Linked DNA regions of Homo sapiens. The protein of the gene in region 6 purifies or fractionates together with the protein of the main gene of each other region. This does not show direct contact. Each region holds a gene or a part of one and is shown on either strand. Other genes may lie near its edges.

The links.
Region 1: the proteins of OR2M7 (region 6) and OSBPL8 purify together in Homo sapiens (affinity purification with mass spectrometry; one large-scale study listed by BioGRID and IntAct). This does not show direct contact.
Region 2: the proteins of OR2M7 (region 6) and CYP51A1 purify together in Homo sapiens (affinity purification with mass spectrometry; one large-scale study listed by BioGRID and IntAct). This does not show direct contact.
Region 3: the proteins of OR2M7 (region 6) and RHBDD1 purify together in Homo sapiens (affinity purification with mass spectrometry; one large-scale study listed by BioGRID and IntAct). This does not show direct contact.
Region 4: the proteins of OR2M7 (region 6) and ZC2HC1B purify together in Homo sapiens (affinity purification with mass spectrometry; one large-scale study listed by BioGRID and IntAct). This does not show direct contact.
Region 5: the proteins of OR2M7 (region 6) and FNDC3A purify together in Homo sapiens (affinity purification with mass spectrometry; one large-scale study listed by BioGRID and IntAct). This does not show direct contact.
Region 7: the proteins of OR2M7 (region 6) and ANKLE2 purify together in Homo sapiens (affinity purification with mass spectrometry; one large-scale study listed by BioGRID and IntAct). This does not show direct contact.

The regions. Positions count from the first base shown.
Region 1 is NC_000012.12:76,367,772-76,371,271, reverse strand, and holds part of OSBPL8 (oxysterol-binding protein-related protein 8), read left to right. Parts: intron 1-1,449; coding exon 1,450-1,635; intron 1,636-1,970; coding exon 1,971-2,058; intron 2,059-3,500. UniProt on the Homo sapiens protein: Lipid transporter involved in lipid countertransport between the endoplasmic reticulum and the plasma membrane: specifically exchanges phosphatidylserine with phosphatidylinositol 4-phosphate (PI4P), delivering phosphatidylserine to the plasma membrane in exchange for PI4P, which is degraded by the SAC1/SACM1L phosphatase in the endoplasmic reticulum.
Region 2 is NC_000007.14:92,124,478-92,127,977, forward strand, and holds part of CYP51A1 (lanosterol 14-alpha demethylase), read right to left. Parts: intron 3,155-3,500; coding exon 3,028-3,154; intron 1,951-3,027; coding exon 1,776-1,950; intron 1-1,775. UniProt on the Homo sapiens protein: Sterol 14alpha-demethylase that plays a critical role in the cholesterol biosynthesis pathway, being cholesterol the major sterol component in mammalian membranes as well as a precursor for bile acid and steroid hormone synthesis.
Region 3 is NC_000002.12:226,863,554-226,867,053, forward strand, and holds part of RHBDD1 (rhomboid-related protein 4), read left to right. Parts: intron 1-1,050; 5' UTR 1,051-1,140; coding exon 1,141-1,573; intron 1,574-3,500. UniProt on the Homo sapiens protein: Intramembrane-cleaving serine protease that cleaves single transmembrane or multi-pass membrane proteins in the hydrophobic plane of the membrane, luminal loops and juxtamembrane regions.
Region 4 is NC_000006.12:143,895,474-143,898,973, forward strand, and holds part of ZC2HC1B (zinc finger C2HC domain-containing protein 1B), read left to right. Parts: intron 1-3,078; coding exon 3,079-3,218; intron 3,219-3,500.
Region 5 is NC_000013.11:49,206,412-49,209,911, forward strand, and holds the end of FNDC3A (fibronectin type-III domain-containing protein 3A), read left to right. Parts: intron 1-669; coding exon 670-984; 3' UTR 985-3,368; downstream 3,369-3,500. UniProt on the Homo sapiens protein: Mediates spermatid-Sertoli adhesion during spermatogenesis.
Region 6 is NC_000001.11:248,323,130-248,325,795, reverse strand, and holds OR2M7 (olfactory receptor 2M7), read left to right. Parts: upstream 1-1,227; coding exon 1,228-2,166; downstream 2,167-2,666. UniProt on the Homo sapiens protein: Odorant receptor.
Region 7 is NC_000012.12:132,727,918-132,730,832, reverse strand, and holds part of ANKLE2 (ankyrin repeat and LEM domain-containing protein 2), read left to right. Parts: intron 1-562; coding exon 563-1,154; intron 1,155-2,669; coding exon 2,670-2,801; intron 2,802-2,915. UniProt on the Homo sapiens protein: Involved in mitotic nuclear envelope reassembly by promoting dephosphorylation of BAF/BANF1 during mitotic exit.

The DNA.
Region 1 (3,500 bases), on a different chromosome or scaffold from region 6:
TCGTCTTGCTTTTCTGTAGCTCAAAACTACTCATTTTTTTCTTTCTCAATTGTTCCAGCACCTTAAAAAAAAAGAAAGAAAGAACGTTTTTGTTTAAATAAGATTACAGGACTAATTAATGACTCTTAGTTTCTACCTGGCAACAGTTTTCTAACCTGATTTAAGCATTAGAACTCTAGGTAAAGGGAGTGGTGCAGAATCTACTTCTGTTCCATTCTCTGATACAAAAGTAAAGTTACTGGATGGACTGGCTTCTATAGGATTTATTAGTTGGGTAATAACTAAGGCTATCATTTCTGTTCTTAAGTCATGAACTTCTTGCTAGATGGCTTATATTTTTGAATCAGAAATATTGTATACACATTCCCTATTTTATTGTTGTTATATCTTTGTGTTAAGAGAAAGAGACTTATGTATAAGAGATATTTTGCTAGGCACTTAGTACTTATTATGCAACTTTGTCCTCCCTACATGTTTGCACATACATATCATTCTCTGTCATGGGAATTCAAGTCTGTGTACCTTCCCTTCTACACTCAAATTTGAGGTTGTCAAAGATGGAAGAATGTATATGTACCAGTTCTAAAAATTCTGTCTCAGCCATAACCATTTGATGTTCTTTTTCCAGAGATAAGCTTTGCCAAGGCATACATATGATAATTTGTGAGAGTATATAATTCAGCATATTTGAAGATGAGGAAATGAGACTTAGGATAAATAACTTTAAGTGCACCAGCTAAGAAGTGGCAGCTCTAGGACTTGACTCATGTCTATCTGATCCCAAAGCCTTTTCTGGTTTTAACATGCTGCCTTTCTAGATGGGTAGGATATAGATATACTTTTATTTAACAGAAGAAAGAACTAGTAGGGGAAATCATTTTACCTCAGTAGTCTTTTCTGTTAAACCAGTGGTTCTCAACACTAGCAATACATTAAAATATTTTGGGGAAACATTTAAAAAATATATCAATACTTGCGCCTGACCCCAGAGATTCTGATTATAAAAATTCTCTGATAATTCATGGATCCAAACTTCAGAAGCACTGCATTACATTAATGGATCTTTATGAAGCCAGTGAATCTTAAACAGTGTAAGACGCATCTAGGAAGCTTGCTAAAAGCGTAGATTCCTGAGCTTTACCTTCATTACATCCTATCATCTTGAGCCAGCAACACTTCAACACTTACTATCATGAGTTTAAGAGTCTATGTAGTAAGTTTCTCTTGCCAAGTAAAAAAAATTAGTCTCCACTTATGAACAGGTCTCTCTCTACTCAAGGGACTGGATTTATATCTTGACTCATTTCTAAGCCTATGAGCATAAGTGTTGTCAAAGCCAGAAATTCATGTGAGCATTATTTTCTCTACAAGGGATTTGAGGCCTATTCTATATAGATTTTATTTTCTGTTACATTTTTAATACTTTTAATATTTTCGCACATGTATTAGACTCTGGCAACGGGTAACTCGAGCCATAAATGCCAAAGACCAAACTGAAGCTACCCAAGAGAAGTATGTTTTGGAAGAAGCTCAAAGACAAGCTGCCAGGGATCGGAAAACAAAAAATGAAGAGTGGTCTTGCAAATTATTTGAACTTGATCCACTCACAGGAGAATGGCATTACAAGTTTGCAGAGTAAGTAACTTAAAATAGTTTATTTCAAACAATGTATTAGCATGGTTTGTTGCCTTTATTTCTAGAATATTTGTTGCTGGAGTAGTTTTTATTTAATTAAACCATGTATATTAGTGTGAGATTTTTAAACTTGGTTTTGCATTCATTATAAGCTTGACTCTATGATAGAAGTTAGCCTATAAAATAAGTTGAGGATCTGAAGATTAGGTATGGGGAAATCTCATTATTAGAACTATGTATATAATTATTAATAAAATTGGATCATAGAATAGAAAGTTTTAAAGTTCTTTGTTTAGTCATTGAGCAAATGGTTTTTTTTTTTTTCATTTATGTAGTACCCGACCATGGGACCCACTTAATGATATGATACAGTTTGAAAAAGATGGTGTTATTCAGACCAAAGTGAAACATCGTACTCCAATGGTATGTAATAAAAAACTAGGTACACTAGGTATATAAATCTGTTAAATCTTTAGTATCTATAGCAACCAACTAAAATTTGGTTTCAAAATTTAAAATTTTGGGTGAGCAAAATACGCAGCTCTGAACTCTTCTTACCCCAAAGAAACATCAGAAAACAAGCAAAAACTGTCAACTCAATTTGCCAGAACTCTGGAAAACAGTCAGAGGTGTTCAGCAACCAAGTGAACACTGGTCAAGAAAGTGCAAAGAGAGGAAAGCTTTGTGGCATTTTACCTGCCCTTGCCCCAGGTCCATCCCAGTGCAGTAGCAGTCTTGAAGAGCCCCTGCGTTGCCAGTGTAAGTCCCTAGTTCCAGAAGGAGCAGAGTGGACCTCATACACAATTGTGTATGTCTGTCCTAACCTGTCAGAATACTACCTGAAGGACTTACACAGGCACTCATCTCTGAGAAAATCAATAAAGACAAATTATTCAAGGGAGCCAAACAAATTCTGGAGCTGAAAAGTATAACAAAAATGAAAATTCACTAGAGGTATTCAAAAGCAGATATAAGCAAGCATAAGACAGGATCAGGAAACTTAGAGATAAGACCATAAAAATTATCCAGTCTGAGGAGGAGAAAGAAAAATGAATGAAGTGAGGTGAACAGAGCCTAAAGGACCCATGGGACACCATCAAGTGGGTTATCATTGCATTATGGGAGTTCCACAAAGAGAAGACAGAAAAATGAATGAAGAATATTTAAGGAAAGAAGACCCCCCAATCCCCAAATTTGGTGGAAGATATAAATCTACAAATTCAAGAAGCTCAACAAACTCCAAGTAGGATGATCTCAGAGAGACCCACACCACAACAAACTGTCAAAAGCCAAAGAGAGTCTTAAAATCAGCAGAGAGAAACAACTTATCACATACACTGGGGATCATCCATAGGATTAACAACCGATATCTTATAGAAACCATGGGGGCCAGAAGGCAATGAGATGACATATTTAAAGTGGTAGAAGCAAAAACTTGTCAATCAAGAATTCTGTATCTGGCAAAACTGTCATTCGAAAATGGGGGAGAAATTAAGACATTCCCAGATAAAAGCTGAGGGAGTTCATTACCACTAGACCTGCCCTACAAAAAAATGCTAAGGTAAATATGTAATAAAATGAAACTCAAAGCTGTATGAAGAAATAAAGATTTTTAGTAAATAGTTGGACAAATATAAAAGCTAGTGCTATTGTAATTTTAGTTTGTAAGTCCACTTTTTATTTCCTGCAGGACTTAAAAAATAAATGAATGAAAAATAATTTAATTACATATCTTTGTTATCAGACATACAATGTGTAAAGATATAGTTCATTACAACATAAAAGCAGAGAGGATGGAGCTGTATAGGAGGAAAGTTTTTATGTACTACTGAAGTTAAGTTGGTATCAACTCAAACTAGATTGTT
Region 2 (3,500 bases), on a different chromosome or scaffold from region 6:
GCTGCATAAGATCACACAGAAAGCAAACATTGGAGCTGGAATTTAAAACTAGGCAGTCTGACTCCCAAGCCCCCTCTTAAATCAAGCCTTCTAAAAAAAACTCCTACTCTGTTTCATTTACAAGACTGTTAATCTGTTATTGAGGATCAACTGAAACCATGTGTACAGAAGAGAAGATGTTGGGGCTTAACTGTATGAATACAGTCGAACCAGGAAAACATAGGCCTGTTTAAGAAAGTGAATTGAATAATCTGGTTAAATTAGTTGGTATGAGTAGAAGAAAGAAAGACTGGGCCAGAATGTGAAGGGCCTAACATAGCAAGCTCTGACTTCATCCAAGAGACAGAGCAGGTAGAAACAGGCAGGTAGAAATGTACATTTATGGGCCAGGTGCAGTGGCTCACGCCTGTAATCCCAGCACTATGGGAGGCCGAGGCGGGCGGATCACAAGGTCGGGAGATCAAGACCATCCTGGCTAACACGGTGAAACCCCATCTCTACTAAAAGTACAAAACAATTAGCCAGGCTTGGTGGCGGGTGCCTGTAGTCCCAGCTACTCGGGAGGCTGAGGCAGGAGAATGGCGTGAACCTGGGAAGCAGAGCTTGCAGTGAGCCGAGCTCATGCCACTGCACTCCAGCCTGGGCGAGAGAGCAAGACTCCATCACCAAAAAAAAAAAAAAAAAAAAGAAATGCACATTTATGGAGAACCCACTATGAGTCCAGGGCTGTGCTGGGTGTTCTAATATAAGATATATGAAAACATTTTGAAACTGCAAAGCTCCTTGCAAATATAAGGTATGATGAGTTCCAGAGAACTTTAGGGAATCTCTCCTGGCTCTTCCTTTTACTCCCACCCCTCTTCCAATCTGTAACTAGATAGAGGGGGCAGAAATAGAAGAAAAGGGACTAGCAATCTATCTCCTCCCCATCTGTCACCTAAACACCAATAAATCAACAAAAGTACAGAAAGCCTACTAATATGCAAAACACTAAGCACTAAGCTATAGATCAAGTCCTAAGAGCAATATTTCTTTATATCAGAGGCAGTCCCTGTCCTTAAGAAACAGAAAATTAAATAAAGGCACAAATATTTAAAACAAAGAAACTTCACAATACAATAAAAAGCCACCAAAGATTTCAAACAAGTGCTAGAGAAGAGCTGTATCACTTTTAGGTATAGTTCAGAGACTTTCCTGAGGATAAGGAATACGTGAGGTAAGCAGGCTTTTAAACTAGGCTGGGCTCAGTGGCTCACGCCTGTAATCCTAACACTTTGGGAGGCTGAGGCAGGTGGATCACCTGAGGTCAGGAGTTTGAAACCAGCCTGGCCAACATGATGAAACCCTGTCTCTACTAAAAATAGAAAAATTAGTTGGGCATGGTGGCACGTGCCTGTAGTCCCAGCTCTCAGGAGGATGAGGCAGGAGAATTGCTTGAACACAGGAGGCAGAGACTGCAGTGAGCCGAGATCACACCACTGCACTACAGCTGGGGCAACAGAGCAAGACTCCATCTCAAAAACAAAAACATAAATAAAATATTAGACTAGACAGACAACAAATCACCTTTTTAATAAACTGAAACTTACTTTAAATGAGCTCATTATATAAAGAAAATTTGTCTTGAATTCTTATAGAAGAAAGGGGATTCATAATCTTACCCATTTTGTATGTTTTACTTGTTTAATTTTTATCTTTGTTAAGGCAAAGCATACCAACACTACAATAATTATACAAAGTTAAATAACCTAGTGTAATATATTCTTTATCCATACCTGAAACTAGGCAAAGGCAGCCAACCTGGTAAGAGCCAGGCTGCATGGCTGAAACCTCCATCCAAATCTGCATACAGCTGTGCTACCTTTTCATTGAGTTGACTTCTGATTTCCTTTCCATGCAAACAATGGCTAGCTGTTAAAATTATGAGCTCAGAAAGAGCTTCAAACACATCTAGGGAGAAAAAAAAGATTATTCTCATTACTATTTCCAAAAAGTGAAAGAAAATTGAGAATTAAAAACAGAACTCAAGAAGAAACAAGATCCTATTCATATCATCAAAAAAAGTCTGTAGACAGACATGTGACTATGTACAACAACAAAGAGGGGCAATAAACCAAACAATGTGAAGCACCCTGTCCCTCTAAACAGCCAAAACAGATCCCAGAAACACATCTCAAAACCCCACTCATGAGCACTTCATCATGAAAAGAATAAATGTGGTTATTTGATTTCCAGGTCACAATAACAAAAGCAGAAAAAAGGTTATTTATAGTGCATATGACAATAATAAGGTACTTCCCAAGGAATAGTAGCCAAAGATCAGATTATTTCCCAGGTTAAAAGTAGGAAGATCAGGGCCAAAATGGAATTACTGGCGATATGTAAAAGAAAACTATAATCACCAATTAGTATATCCCAACACTGGAGACAAATGCACCAGGCAAGCATAATTTGATGACAACTAATAAAAATTATCCAATTAATTTCCTGTTAATTCCACATTCACTAAATGAACTTCCAATGATCATCTGGCTTTCCAATTATATTTGTCAATAAAAAGAATATCAGTAAATATTCTGGATTTCTTGGTGCTGTAATTATATGTCTCACATGCATTATTACATTGGCATTCTAATTTATACATCAGTTTCTTGTATGGTTAGAAAATATATCAATATCAACTTAAGTATACCAAAAACAAAGATTCTGGAACTCTTACAGAGGCCAAAGGCCAGACCCAGAATATAGTGACCTGCTGCCCTGGGTCCTGCTGCCCTGTGGGCAGATGTTGCTTCCTACTATGGGCACAGCAATTGCTTCTGAAGGCAATACTTAACTTGCAGCCCAGTATAAAAACTGGATTCTCAGTTACAACTTCATGGTAATCATTACATAACCCTCCCATAAATCTAAGGTAGTTTTACATACACTGTAATTTGTTTTTTATATACTACACACATATATACTCTACTTTTCTATTCACAGAGAAGTAGAAATGTTAGGACAAACATAAAACATTTTGCTTACTTTTTTCTCCACTTTCTCCCCAACTCTCAAAGTATTCCTTTGTTTCTTTTTCAATTATAGAAACATGCTGTTTAAAGTGGGCTATGTTAAGGCCACTTTTTAACATTTTCTTCTGCTCCAAGAAAACCTTCAAAAAAATTCAAAACGGGGATACGGCATTAAAACACATTTTTGTTTTATCATAAAATCCATTTAGGTTATTATAATTATGTAACACTAACACAAGTAATGGTTTTAACCCTTTGGGCATTTACATTTTAAGAGTCTAAATGAATAGATCTATCTGACTCTAAATGAATAGAGTCTAAATGAATATATATATCTGAACAGAGGGATTTTCCAGGGCCCTGTTTTTTGGCCTTAAGGAGAGGCATTCATTCCCTCATTCCCCATCACTAGAAACAAGATTTAATGTTAACTCTTAACTGCTATACTAGGGTACTGGCTAATGTGTGTTACATTCACAGCCAGAG
Region 3 (3,500 bases), on a different chromosome or scaffold from region 6:
TTGTATACCTGTGGTCAGCTAGACAGCTTCACCTCTGGAGTAGTAGCTGACCAGTGGCAAGGACCTTCAGGGTGACTGGAGTGTGTGCCTCTCTTTCATTACCCAGCAGGCTGGCCTAAAGTTTTCACATGTTGTTTGAGAGGGTTTCAAGAGAGAGAAGCCTATAAATCATCTTGAGGTATAGGCTGGGAGCTTATGTAGTATCCCTTCCTCCACATTCTGTTAGCCAAAGCATGTCACAGTGCCAGCCCAGGTCCAGCGGGGTGGAGAAGCGGGCTAGTAAGCCATGGAACTTCTCATTGTCAACCCCAAATCACCCTTGAAGACCATAGTCAGATCACCACCTCAGGCTGTGTTGTGTGCCTGTGCTCTGGGTTCCCTCTCTCACTGCATTTAGAACATTATGTGGCCACTGTTGGTTTATTTCTTGGTGGAAAGTGAGCCTCTTAAAAACAAGGACTGTGTTTCAACCCAGGATTTGGCTTGTAGAGTAGGTAACGAAAAGCTGAAGTTGTTATGAAAGTAGAGTTCAGACCACTGATATCTGGCAGTGTGGAAATTGGGATTAAAGATAATGTATGCTCGTGTCTTAAAACTTGCTTGTTGATGTTTAAAAACTTTGGAGCAAACTCATTCTAACATATCAAAATCAAATATTTCTTTGAAAAAAATGGAGGGGATAAAGAATCCTGGCCAGGATTCTGAGTAGAAATCATTTAATACTTGCACACTATCTTTGTAGGTTTTTCATGAGGTTACATGTTTGTTTGGGAAGTGAAGTTAATTTCGTGGTGTGTTTGTCAGAGAAAAACATACCTGTCCATTAACTGATTCATTGGGATTTGGGATAACATTTCTATTCTAGAATGTAAAATGAAGGAAGGGTGTCAGTCAGCATCCTCGATATTACTCTTGAAGATGTCGAACATAAATATTTCTGTTAGAATGAGAAGTAGCATTTGCCTCATGGGAGTTTGTCTTGAAGCGAGTATGTCTTATATATGTACTAATTCTTAATTGATGGTTTTTCACATGCATTTTGTGTTTTAGGTTCAGCCGTCTGTATATCTCCCCAGATACCTGAAACTGACCACCTGAGTACGTTTTCCCATTGCTGAGCTGTTTCCCTGATATCTGGCCATGCAACGGAGATCAAGAGGGATAAATACTGGACTTATTCTACTCCTTTCTCAAATCTTCCATGTTGGGATCAACAATATTCCACCTGTCACCCTAGCAACTTTGGCCCTCAACATCTGGTTCTTCTTGAACCCTCAGAAGCCACTGTATAGCTCCTGCCTTAGTGTGGAGAAGTGTTACCAGCAAAAAGACTGGCAGCGTTTACTGCTCTCTCCCCTTCACCATGCTGATGATTGGCATTTGTATTTCAATATGGCATCCATGCTCTGGAAAGGAATAAATCTAGAAAGAAGACTGGGAAGTAGATGGTTTGCCTATGTTATCACCGCATTTTCTGTACTTACTGGAGTGGTATACCTGCTCTTGCAATTTGCTGTTGCCGAATTTATGGATGAACCTGACTTCAAAAGGAGCTGTGCTGTAGGTTTCTCAGGTAAGGGAGACAAAATTTTGAGGTTGCATGCATAAAGGAAGCAAGGGAGGTGTGGCTGCTGTCATTTTATGAAGTGTGGGTCCCTATCAAATTCTGAGTGGTTAAGGGCTGCTGAGGCTTTGCGTCTTGAAGAGGAGGCTGGAGCATGCAGGGACTAGTTTTTGCCATTCTACATTATGCTGCATTATTCACTCTTAGTCTGCACTAGGACCTGCTGGAAGGTGGTTTTGTAGAAGACATAGTATTGGAAATATGCACCAGCTCCTTATGGTAGGGTCACAGAAAGACCCACAGATGTATTTGTAATAGGGAGTTCTCAAAAAAGATGACTGTGCTTGTGAAGTAGGCTCAGTGTGCTGTCTCTGATTACCAACTTGTCTGCACCTGGTGAGACAGAGCACACTCATCTGCAACAAGTTACATGAGGCAGATTTAGTATTTACAGTTAGGCAGCAAGGGAAAACAGGAGCCTAGGATTCATCGTGAGCCCATCTTCAAGGCTCAAAAAGCTGCCTAGGGCTGTTGGAGTCTTCACTGTGTGTGTTCCTTGCATGCAAATAAGGAACCCCAAAGAGGCAGCCAGGTACAAACCTAGGAATCACATGAATCACTGGGCAAAGCTTTGAAAGACATCCTATTCGGGAGAGGATTAGGCTGTTTCAGCCAGCCCCCTTTTATCTCAGGGTGTTGGATTTCCAGCACATTTCCATAGTTATTCTTGAGAACTACAAGCGAGAAAGGAGGGGGAGAACTACATAGGTCCAAGGCCACCTGGAGAACTGTCCTGCGATGCCTCTGGATGACTTCGTTAATAAATGGACCACACCCTGCTATGGCATGCTGGCCATGTTTTAGGAGCCATGATAATCACTCTGCATAACCTAACCAATTTAATTTATGCAGCAGATCCACATGGAGATGGGATTATCTTTATTTTATTTTATTATTTATTTATTTTTTTTGAGACGGAGTCTCGCTCTGGCACCAGGCCTGAAGGGCAGTGGCGTGATCTCGGCTCACTGCAACCTCCGCCTCCCAGGTTCAAGCGATTCTCCTGCCACAGCCTCCCGAGTAGCTGGGACTACAAGGCACGCACCACCATGCCCAGCTAATTTTTGTATTTTTAGTACAGATGGGGTTTCACCATGCTGGCCAGGATGGTCTCTATCTCTTGACCTTGTGATTCACCCACCTTGGCCTCCCAAAGTGCTGGGATTACAGGCGTGAGCCACTGTGCCCGGCCTTGATTTTATTTTACTTTTTTTATTTGTAGTTTTTTTTCTGACCACCTGCTGACTGTTGAGGGATTGTCTTGATTTTATAGATGAGGAAGCCAAGACCCAGAGAAGTGAGGTTACTAGCACAAGGTTACCCAGCTCGGAAGCGATGGAGCTGGGACTTGAGCCCAGTCTACAGATTAGCTGTGTGATGCATTGTCTCTCACTTTCTTCCTCACTAGTTCCTTTTTACAGATATTTCATGGGACCAAAATTGCCAGCAGGATTTAAATTAGGCGTTCTAAATATTAGAATGTGAAGGGGAGGAGAGAGGTAGTCCTGAAACAAGGAAATCTAATCCTTCCTTCTGCTTTTCCTGACATCCTTCCCCTTTCCTTCCAAGATGTATCCTTATGCATCTAATTGTGGGAGAAGAAAGAATATATGCCCTGTCTTCAACATGTTTTTCCATAGAGGTTAGAAAAATACATATTACTGGTATTTTTATTGAGTTAAAATTTATATAGCATAACTATTTTGTAGTGCACAGTTCACTGGCGTTTAATACTAATAATAGTATTTTATTCACATGGTAGGTATTATGTATTTAGTAGCATACTGAACACCAATATGAACTTCTATATTTAGAAACATCAAAGGAGTGACTGCCTTTAACGTTGTCTTTTTACCAAATGCAAGGTTGTAAGGAA
Region 4 (3,500 bases), on a different chromosome or scaffold from region 6:
ATTTATATACATATAACTAGAGTTATATATAACATGGCCTAACATGCATGAATGTGCCAGTAATTTCCCTTTTTTCCTCAGCATGATTCCCTATTTTCATGATTCAGTTTTTGAGACATGCCTATATTCTACTTTTTAGTGACTTAGCTAAGTCTGTCAATGATTTAAATTTCTAGGATACTGTGACAGTTTATGGGGACAGTGATATAGAATATTTATAATTGTTATTTTTCTATGAGGCCTGGGACATTCAGTTACCATTTTGCATAGCTACATAGACACGGATACACAGCACAATATTGGCATTTTAAAATAATGCTTGGTTTTCCACTTTTCTCTGAGATCTGGCCACCATATTCCTCGAAAGAATTCATTTGGACTCTGACTTTTAAAATCATTACCTATTGAAATAAATAGGACATGGTGATTTTATGAAAACATTATTGATAGAGGAAGAGAGGTGACTCCGATTGAGCTGAGTGTAGAACATGTAGCTCAGTTATGCTGGGTTCAGATTATTGTTGCAGAAAATACAACAATTCTCAAAATATGTGAAGTTCAACATAAATAGAAATCAGCAACCTTGAATGCTCAGCCACAGGACTCTCTCCTGCCTGCTCTCTGCCCCTCTGGTGGGGCCTTATGTTCCTTCTGTAGGGTCCCAGAGGCCCTAGTGCCTCTTCTTCTACAGTTTATCCCACCAAGCAGTAATTGTCTGTTTGCCTAATCATCTCTGAGATTTTCATTGGCAGGGAAATAGACTTCAACTTTGCTGTCTCCATGGTGATATGTAGTACCAAACACAGAAGGGTGGCAGTGAGTGAATGAGCAAGTGGGATTAAGGAAGCAACTCAGTATTGCCATGATCATTGTCTTTGCCTAATGTGAGTAGGGTTTATGGTTGCAGCATTTCTTATGTAAGACTTCACTTTCCAGCTGGCAAAATTGAAGAAATAACCACCAAGCTAAAAGCCATGTTCTAGATGGTTCTTCTAAACCATTGTAAATGAATTCTGAATGATAATGGCACTTTCTATTGTACTTTTTTCCTAGGCAGTTTCACTTCTATTTGGTAGTTGGAAACACAACCTTGCTGAACCTGTTTCCTTATAGCAATAGCTAGCATTTACAAAACATTTAGTATGTTCCACCCCGCCCACTGTGCCAGGCCCTTATGTGGATTTTCATAGTTAACTTTCACAACAACCCGATGAAACAGGTGATATGTAGGTGCTGGGAAAATGGAAGCTTAAGGAGGTTGGGTAACTTGCCCGAGTTCACACACATAGCAAGTAAAGAACTCAGGCTCAAAACCAGTCAGGCAAGCTCCAGCACTGGGCTTTTTATCATTTCCCAATGCTGTCCTGTTCTATTTTTTTTCAAGGCATTTATCTCCGTGTGAAATTTTTATTTATTTGTTTCTGTGCTAGAATGCTTACTCCTTGATTTCAGAGACATTGCATCCCCAGGTGTAAGACAGCACCTGGCACCAAGTAGATGCTCAGTCAGTGTTAAATTAATGATGAGGTACTGCCTTCTGGATGGAGTAAGAAATAAAGGATAAGGCTACCAGATAATTCCTAAGTGCTTAACAATTGTTACATCTTATGAATATACATTTTAGGAAATGATTTGTTCAAATAGGAAACTCCCCAAACTGCTTAAAAAGGTGGCTTACAAAAAATTCTTAACATCACTACATGAAATACCCATCCACGCATGTAGGAATTTTGACTATACACTAACACAAGTTCTACACTGAGTTTGAGGTTGATGCAGTTTCACACCCTTCCTGGGGTCGGGGCGGTGGGATTATTTTATGTTGCTGATATCTAGTGTGCTATCCCTTTAAGGTGCCTGAAACAAAACAAAGCAAACACCAATCCCTGCTTGATTTAGAGGGGTAGTTGCCAACCTAGTTTTGCTATGAGCAGCTCCACATTCTAAGAAGATCTTGCCTGTTTCCCACTTCTCATTTCTCTCCGTAACCAATTATGTCTGTTAATTGCAAATGAAAGAAGAAAAAAAAGATATTATACAGAACCACAGAGAACCTGGGGCCGACAGGAGCTGCCTGGGCCATTGCATCTCTGGAAGCTGAAGCTGTTTTCGGTGAACTTTCCTATCATCCCTCCTTCTTTCCCTTTTCTGTTTTTTGAGTCCTCACCTTTTATCCTATTACTATCTCCTTCCTGAATATATTGCCTGCTCACTTAGTAGTTAAGTGAAAAAAAAAATCTAGCCACTGCAAAAGCAGTATGTCTTTCTGCCAGTGACACAGTCCCATTGACTTCCATTCATATCTCCCAAACCCACATTTTGAAACATCCCATCTCCCTCTGTAACTCTGTAACTTCTCTAAGACCCACCCAGCACTACAACCTATGCTTTTGAATATTCTGTGCCCTACTGTGCCATCAATACTAACATTCTGTGATTCTAGAACTACTTTCTTTACACAGGATTTACTAAATAATTCATTTCATTGAGAAGTTCTTAAGATTAATTTTCTTTGTTTTTCTGGAAAAGTACATCACTTAAACATTTCAAGGACAGACAATTGAAATGAATGCACAGGTTGTGACATTTTTCCATGCCATGTCCTTTAGTTGAGCCCTGCATGTCTTGCCCTTTGGAATAGTCTCAAACCAGAGTTTGGGACCTTGTTCTTTCATGTTGGAGCAGAGTTCATATCATTACTTACATATTTATTTATTTACTTATTTGAAATAGGGTCTTGTTCTGTTGCCCAGGCTGGAGTGCTGTGGCATGATCACAGCTGACTGCAGCCTTGACCTTCTGGGCTCAAGCTATCCTCTCAAGTGGCTGGAACCACAGGCACACACCACCACACCTGGCTAATTTTTTGTAGGGACGGGGTTTTGCCGTGTTGCCCAGGCTGGTCTCAAACTCCTGGACTCAAGCAGTCCACTCACCTCAGCCTCACAGAGTGCTGGGATTACTGGCATGAGCCATCATATCCTTATTTCACTTCATGTAGTTCATTCTATAATTCTATAGTATTCTATAGTTGTTTTTGAAGTGCTAATTGCCATTTGTTGTTATCTTTACATTCAGATTATATTCAACGTCCATATTGTATGAGAAGGTTTAATGAAAGCGCAGCTGAGCGACATACTAATTTCTGCAAGGATCAGTCTTCTCGCCGAGTCTTTAATCCAGCTCAGACAGCAGCCAAATTGGCATCCAGAGCTCAGGTAACTATCTCTCCCCAGGTGTTGGCTCTTGTGCCCTTGAATGCCTAGGGGTGAGCCGGTAGAACTCCCTAGAGAACCTCAGTTACCCATCCTAAGAAGTGTAAGCGTGAAGAGAGCTGATCATGATTGCTCACCCCTGTGGGAGCTGACTTCTTTTGCAGGAGAATGCTTTCCAGCTAAGGCACCTTTGGGTGTTGTAGAAAAAAATATTTCTAAAGTATTTGAAGCTTCTTTGGGTGAAGACTTGAATACATAGTGTTTCTATAGCATTATGGCAAAACT
Region 5 (3,500 bases), on a different chromosome or scaffold from region 6:
ATTGCCAAGGTCTGATTTTTCACAAAAAAAAAATTTGCAACCTCTGGCATAAATGGGTTAATTACTAGCACATTCCTCTGAAAATCCGTGGAATTTCATTCTTTTTATTTCCCTTGTGAGGCATGGCAGAGGAGGTCCTATTTTCTGATTCTAAGTGATCTCCCCTCTCTGGTTTATACAGTGATTTGCCATAGGCACCTATAGAAAGCTCCCCTTATTCATTTTCCATTTCATTGTACAGATATGTTTGAAATTATATGGAAATTTATCAGTTATACAAAGACATAATGGGGGAAGCAAAAGTAGACACTATCCCTTCTTTGATGGAATGATTGCATTGAAAAATGACTTCTTACATTTGAGAAAAGCAAGAAAATGCTTGAGGACCGATTTTGCTTGTTCTCTAGCTGCCCTGGGGCACATCTGCACTCCTTAATTCATCTGTGAACCGTATAAGGGTAGATCCTCGCTTTTGAAATTTCTCTTGCCCCTATGCAACAAACAGATAAGTACTTTAATGGACAGGTATTTTTAACATGTCATTTAAAAGATAAAATCAATGGCATTCACTGGCTTTCACATGAAAAACAATTCTAACACTAGCCAGTTTTAACACATTTTCTGTCCAGCCTTCACACGTAATTCTTCCTTCTAATATTTTATTAACAGATTTACAAGGGTCCCGACTCTTCCTTCCGGTATTCCAGCCTTCAGCTGAACTGTGAATATCGCTTCCGTGTATGTGCCATTCGCCAGTGCCAAGACTCTCTGGGACACCAGGACCTCGTAGGTCCCTACAGCACCACAGTGCTCTTCATCTCTCAGAGGACTGAACCACCAGCCAGCACCAACAGAGACACTGTGGAAAGCACAAGGACCCGACGGGCACTGAGTGACGAGCAGTGTGCTGCCGTCATCCTTGTGCTGTTTGCTTTCTTTTCCATTTTGATTGCCTTTATCATTCAGTACTTTGTAATCAAGTGAAAATATAACTTTATTTTTTAACTCTATTACATTTTATTTTGTCATGTACTAAAATTATTTCTGTATTGCTTTTATAAAAAACAGTGGCATTTAGCACTGGCATTGAGACTATAGCACATCATTTTTGCCATTTTCAGTGCTTATATTGTTAGGTAGAGGCTGGCACTTTATTAGAATGCAAGCCACAAAAATATCAATTTTGTTTTTTTTGTTAGGGTGGGTCTTCTTTTTTTCTTTCCCTCTCTCTTTTTTTAACAAATGCCTTCTTATAGAAAAACTTTCTAAGAGGCAACAATTTAGAATGGATATTTTGACGAATCGGCATGAGTGTAACAGTGATAACCTGATCTGTTTGTTTTAAAGATTATTACCAAGTGAAAAATTCAGAATGAATAGAATTTACACTAACATGCTATATAAAATGTTAAAGTCTGATGCTGTGAAAGCAATCTAGTGCTATATTTCTACCTCCTCATTTGTCTTAATTATTTGGTAAGTGGGATTATGATGAGTAACTGGAGGGGCTTAGAAACAAAAACTGGATGAAAGAGTATGCATGAAGAAAAGCTTCTTTGATAAATGTGGAGTTCTTCATTATAAATATATATTCATGAATTCACAGATAAGTACTTAAAGAACAGACAGTTTACTTGGCCTAAAAATATTTTGATGTTTACTCAAAAAGTACCTCTTCAGGTCTTGAGAACATGGAAAAGAATTGAGTGCTTTTAAATACTTTTTAGAAAGTAATCATAAAAGTAAATTGAATTTCAAACCTATTTGGCTTCTGTTTTGTGAACCTTTGAACTATATGTATGTGTATAAGGGTATACACATACATATATGGCATATAACAAGTGTACACATATACACATAACAAGTGTAGAAGTATATATTACATACATACACTCACTCTGTCTGGTATAGGCTAATTTTGAAGAACTCCCATAAGTTTCTGCTGCTTCTCCCATAACTGCTGCCACCACCATCAGAATTCATAATCAAACCTAACCTTTTTGTTTGGGGCACCAAATCTGAAGACAAAATTAATTTGCACCAGTAAACTTCAAGCTGCTTTCTTTCTTGAAAACTAAACGTTTAACGTATAATGTCTGTTTGGATACTGTTCCAAATTGTTGATTGCATGTGGTTAATGTTGCATTAGAGCACTTTGCAATTGCATAATTCATTAATGTTTTGTGAGCTTGCATTTGTGAGTTATTGGATGATCAGACTGAATTTTGTCAAGTATCACATTGTACATCTTGCCTAGATGTCGATGACTGCAAGTAATAATACAGTTTATAATGAAACTATCTACAATTCTTGTTTTAGCACATCTGTTATCCGTAAAACACCTGTAACTAGCTTTTTTAATTTATTATTTGAATTTTAGGATAGCGAATCACTAATTTTTAGTTGCTGAGGTTGGCATTTTAGTGATTATTAAGCACTTCTGTCAGTCTTTGAAAAAAGAACGTATTTTTTGTGCTTTGAAGATCTCTGAAGAATTTCTTTTATAATAGAATGGGCATGTATTGTAACAGTTTTATGTCAAATGATCTGTGCTGTAGAAAAACATTAACCCTTGTTCAAAAAAGAAATGGATAAACTTGGCCTTTCTAAGTGGTAAGAATGACCTGTCACTATAATATACTGTATGTTTACATTTTATTTAAATTTAATCTCTTATGTATAGGGTGATAACCTTCCCCAGAAACAACAGTGATTGCGATTGTTTTCTAGAAACTTCTTTAAAGTGCCACATTTGGCAGTACAAATGAGTCTGAGTGTAATAGCCCAGAGATTTATATATAGTTGAATGTCTAAAATGGTAAAATGTGCCACTGTGTCAAGTTACAGTGGCTTATGTTTTTCATAGTAATTCAAATGAACTTCCTATTTTTGATAGTAAATGTCATTTAATAGTATACTTGCCATTTGAGCCTCACTGCAAAATTAGTGCAGAGGAGAAAACAATTTTTAATGTAATCTTGATTTTACCTCATATACTGTACATTCCAAAAACTCTAAACTTTTTAAAGATTATAGATACACTACCAAACATATCACCTTAAAATTGTATAAGGCTGAATGAACTTCATACAAATGAAAAAAATCTCATAAAAATACATAAACTATGTAGCAAAAGTATCTGTAAAATCCATGGAAAATAAAAGTTGTATCATTCTTTTTGAGATACGTTTATTGTATTCATATATATTCATTATTTGCTACCTGTTTAAGAAAGTGAAATGTTATGGTCTCCCCTCTTCCAATGAGCTTAAAACATTTTTCCCAACAGTATATAAATCTTCAACATGAGAGGATGTATATTTATTATATAAAGCCCAGTAAAGAATAAAATTAGAAGTTTTATCCTAGTGACTTGATTTTGTGCAACTCATGAAATATCTTACTTCCTTTCCACATATAAAGAATACAGTGAGTCTAAGGTAAACTTCCCAGTGGGAAGAAAATCCCTAACCTCTCCTTGCCTTTCCCACATCCCTATT
Region 6 (2,666 bases):
CTGATCACACTCACTATGACCTGTATGGACACGGGCTTTCTTTATTCTGGTCACTGTGGTAGCCCCAGTGATCAACACATAGCCAGGCTTCATAAATGTTGTTGAAAGGATGAATCTCATGCTTTTCTTAATTTCTGTTTTTATATCTACTTATTTTCTATAGGATATATTGGATGTATTAATTTCCTACGAATGCCAGTACAGAGAAATCACAAACAGGTTACCTAAAACAATAGAAATTTATTCTCTCATAGTTTTGGAGTCTAGAAATCTGAAATCAAGTTGTCAGCAGGGTTGGACACTTCTGAGGGCTCTAAGAGGATGAATCTGTCCCATTCCTCTCTCCCAGGTTCCTGTTATAACTAACAGTTTTTGGCATTTCTTGATTTGTAGATGCACCACTCCAATCCCTGCCTCCCCTATCACATGGTATCCTCAGTGTCTCAGTCTTCACATGGCCACCCACTTATCAGAACATGAGTCATATTGAATTAGAGAGACCCACTCTGCTCCAACTTGACCTCACCTTAACTAATTATACCCTTTATGTATTTCTAAACAAGCTCACTTGCTATCTTTTGGGGAAGAAACATAATTCAATGCATCACACTGGGCTATAGAAAAAAGAGCATATGTCTTAGATTTGTATAATTGAAAATCTTTTCAGTGAATCCACTTACTGTATAGAAAACTTACTATAAAGTATAGATAAAATACTTTAAACTGTAAAGTAATAGGTAAACATACACATTTTCTTAACTCTGGTAGGAAAAATGCCTACTATCATGTGAATAAAGGCACAAATTTATTGTCCATTTCTAGTATTGTGTTGGTCACATGGTGACTGAACCTGAATTTCTCTATCAATTTACCTGTAACAGGCTTCTGATGTTTTAGGAACTGTTTGCTTTGGAGACATATTCTTTTTGGAAAAACTCCATTGATCATGTAGTAGATATTGTTATTGTAATTTTTCAATGGAGAAAAAGAATGCTTAGAAGAAAAGTTAGGACAAGCTCCATAATTTTATAAGTGAGACACTGCTGAGAGAACATATTTCTTTATGATTCCATAATTCTTAAACTTTGAGTTTTATAATTCTGGCCATCCTGTATTGATCACCAAACTACAGAATTTACCATAATCACATGCTTTATAAGGCACTGGGTAAATGTTTATCAAATTAATGAACTGTTTTTGCGGTGCTAGGTAACAGGCATATTCATCATGGCATGGGAGAATCAGACCTTCAACTCTGACTTCCTCCTCCTGGGAATCTTCAATCATAGCCCCACCCACACCTTCCTCTTCTTTCTGGTCCTGGCCATCTTTTCAGTGGCCTTCATGGGAAACTCCATCATGGTTCTCCTCATCTACCTGGATACCCAGCTCCACACCCCCATGTACTTCCTCCTCAGCCAACTGTCCCTCATGGACCTCATGCTCATCTGCACCACTGTACCCAAGATGGCCTTCAACTACTTGTCTGGCAGCAAGTCCATTTCTATGGCTGGCTGTGCCACACAAATTTTCTTCTATATATCATTGCTTGGCTCCGAATGCTTTCTGTTGGCTGTTATGTCTTATGACCGCTACACTGCCATTTGCCACCCTCTAAGATACACCAATCTCATGAGACCCAAAATTTGTGGACTTATGACTGCCTTCTCCTGGATCCTGGGCTCTACAGATGGAATCATTGATGCTGTAGCGACATTTTCCTTCTCCTACTGTGGGTCTCGGGAAATAGCCCACTTCTGCTGTGACTTCCCTTCCCTACTAATCCTCTCATGCAATGACACATCAATATTTGAAGAGGTTATTTTCATCTGCTGTATAGTAATGCTTGTTTTCCCTGTTGCAATCATCATCACTTCCTATGCTCGAGTTATTCTGGCTGTCATTCACATGGGATCTGGAGAGGGACGTCGCAAAGCTTTTACTACTTGTTCCTCTCACCTCATGGTGGTGGGAATGTACTATGGAGCAGGTTTGTTCATGTGCATTCAGCCCACATCTCATCATTCTCCTATGCAGGACAAGATGGTGTCTGTATTCTACACCATCGTCACTCCCATGCTGAATCCTCTCATTTATAGCCTCCGCAACAAGGAAGTGACCAGAGCATTAATGAAAATCTTAGGAAAGGGCAAGTCTGGAGATTGAGTTACCTCATAAATTTCATGTTTTGCTGTCTGCTAACGTCTTCTTTTTATTGTCTCTCTTTTTCTATTAAGTCCTAAAAATATCACTAATTGTGTGCATTGCTCAACATATTGATGGGTACCAGTATAATTTATTTCAGATAAACTATTTTAGATTTTTTAATATTCAATTCAGTTATGACTACAATATAAGGCATTTTCAATAAAGACATTCCATTTTTATTTTTAAATTTCATTATCATTTTGGGAAACACATAGTGTTTGGTTACATTAATAAGTTCTTTAATGGTGATTTCTGAGATTTTAGTGCAGCGATCAACCAAGCAGTGTTCGCTGTACCTAATGTGTAGTCTTTTAGCCCTCTCCAGTCCCCAACATTTCTTCCAAGTCCCCAAGTCCAGTGTATCATTTTTATGCCTTGGTGTTTCATAGCTTAGCTGGCACATATGAGTGAGAATATACGATGTTTGGATTTCCATGCCTGTGTGACTTCACTTTGTA
Region 7 (2,915 bases), on a different chromosome or scaffold from region 6:
TTATTTCCCTCCTCGTCTGAAATAGGGTCTCACTCTGTGGCACAGGATGGAAAGCAATGGTGCAGTCACAGCCCACTGCAGCCTCCCCCTCCTGGGCTCAAGCGATCCTCCCACTTGAGCCTCCCAAATAGCTGAGACTACAGGTGCGTGCCACCATGTCAGCTAATTTTTCTATAGAGAACGGGGTTTCGCTATGTTGCCCAGGCAGTCTTGAACTCCTGGGGTCCAGCGACCCCCCTGCCATGGCCTCCCAGAGTGCTGGGATTGCAGGCGTGAGCTTCTGTGCCTGGCCCCAGCAGCCTGATTGTGTCTGGAGGGTCCTGTTTGCCCTTTTCCAGGGAGTCGTGTGGGTGGTTTTCCATCCTGAAATCTGATGAGGAGGTTTTGGATGCAAGAGTTGCTGTTGCTGGGGTCACGGCAGTTGGTCGCGGATGGAGTGGGGAGGTTTTGGGTATAAGAGTTGCTGTTGCTGGGGTCACGGCAGTTGGTCATGGATGGGGCGGAGCAGCTCCGTGGCTTCCTGTCGTTCCCATCACTGAAGTGCTCCTTGTTGTCCTCACAGGCAGCAATTCCATTTCCGTGAGGGCGTTTCTAGATGAAGATGACATGAGCTTGGAAGAAATAAAAAATCGGCAAAATGCAGCTCGAAATAACAGCCCGCCCACAGTCGGTGCTTTTGGACATACGAGGTGCAGCGCCTTCCCCTTGGAGCAGGAGGCAGACCTCATAGAAGCCGCCGAGCCGGGAGGTCCACACAGCAGCAGAAATGGGCTCTGCCATCCTCTGAATCACAGCAGGACCCTGGCGGGCAAGAGACCAAAGGCCCCCCGTGGGGAGGAAGCCCATCTGCCACCTGTCTCGGATTTGACTGTTGAGTTTGATAAACTGAATTTGCAAAATATAGGACGTAGCGTTTCCAAGACACCAGATGAAAGTACAAAAACTAAAGATCAGATCCTGACTTCAAGAATCAATGCAGTAGAAAGAGACTTGTTAGAGCCTTCTCCCGCAGACCAACTCGGGAATGGCCACAGGAGGACAGAAAGTGAAATGTCAGCCAGGATCGCTAAAATGTCCTTGAGTCCCAGCAGCCCCAGGCACGAGGATCAGCTCGAGGTCACCAGGGAACCGGCCAGGCGGCTCTTCCTTTTTGGGTAGGAGTGTGTTGCCCTCTGCACTCACTTTCCTTCCCCACCTTCCCTCCCCCCTCCCCCTCCCCTCACCTCCCCCTCCCCTTCCCCTCCCACCCATCCACTCCCCTCATCTCCCCCTTCCCTCACCTCCCCCTCCCCCTTCCCTCACCTCCCCCTCCCCTTGCCTCCCCTCCCCCTCCTCTCACCTTCCCCTCCCCTCCCCCTCCCCTCCCACCCTCCCATTCCCCTCATCTCCCCCTCCCCTACCCCTCCCCTCATCTCCCCCTCACCTCCCCCTCCCCTATCCCCCCACCCCATCCCCTCGACTCTCCTCTCCTCTCCTTTCTTTCAGATGGAGTCTTGCTCTGTCGCCTAGGCTGGAGTGCAGTGGTGCGATCACAGCTCACTGTAACCTCCACCTCCCAGGTTCAACCAATTCTCCTGCCTCAGCCTCCTGAGTAGCTGGGATTACAGGCGCCTGCCACCACGTCTAGCTGATTTTTGTATTTTTAGTAGAGATGGGGTTTCGCCATATTGGCCAGGCTGGTGTCGAACTCCTGACCTCGTGATCCACCTGCCTCGGCCTCCCAAAGTGTTGGGATCACAGGCGTGAGCCACCGCACCCGGCCTCCACACAAGCTTTTGTGTGGACTTGCCGTGTGCGTTCAGTTCCTGTCTCTGAGTCCAGCTTCTAGATGCTCTTTCTGGGTCTTCCTCTGGTTGGACCGTGGGTGATCCTAGTGTTGGCTGTTATTTGCTAGGGATGTGCCTGCCAGTGGTGTGAATGATCTCTTCTAAATCCTTCTAGGAAGAAAAGCCATCTTGGGGTCAATCTCAATCTAACAGGGGATAAATGTCCCTAACCTTCTGGTACTGAGCACCCTCTGGGGGTGCAAGTATGCAAAACTGCATTTTAACAGCGGGTGGATCCTGCTACCATAGAGAATGCAGGCGTGCACCCAGAGGCGACTCCTCCCTGGCCCCTGCTCTTCTCATCACAGAACAGCGAGTCTGCATCCGCCTCCCTGGCCTTGGGAGATGCCTCCCTCTGCAGAGCTAATGCCCTGACATGCTGCTGCTGGTTCCCTGGTTCCATCTGCTCAGGCCAGATCGATCCTTGCACACTGTTGTTTTGTGTGCTGGGTTCTTGAGTTTAAAATGTAGTGATATTTGTCTGGGTGTGGTGGCTCACGCCTGTAATTCCAGCACTTTGGGAGGCCGAGGTGGGTGGATCACAAGGTCAGGAGTTCAAGACCAGCCTGACCAAGATGGTGAAATCCTATCTCTAATAAAAATACAAAAAATTAGCCGGGCGTGGTGGCAGGCACCTGTAGTCCCAGCTACTCGGGAGGCTGAGGCAGAGAATTGCTTGAACCCGGGAGGCGGAGCTTGCGATGAGCCGAGATCACGCCACTGCATTCCAGCCTGGGCGACAGAGCAAGACTCCGTCTCAAAATAAAAAAAAAAGTAGTGGTATTTTAGAAGTCTTTATGTTTTTACCAAAGATGTTTTTGCTTCTTTTATTGTGCTTTCTAGAGAGGAGCCATCAAAACTCGATCAGGATGTTTTGGCCGCTCTTGAATGTGCAGACGTCGACCCCCATCAGTTCCCGGCCGTGCACAGATGGAAGAGTGCTGTCCTGTGCTACTCACCCTCGGACAGACAGAGGTATGTGGGGCCCGGACAGCCTGTCACCCGCAGGGCAGCTTTTGGAAACTTCTGCAGGGTCCAGTTCCACTTCATGCGAACCTATCAGTGGCTTTTCCCAACGCTGGCAGGCCC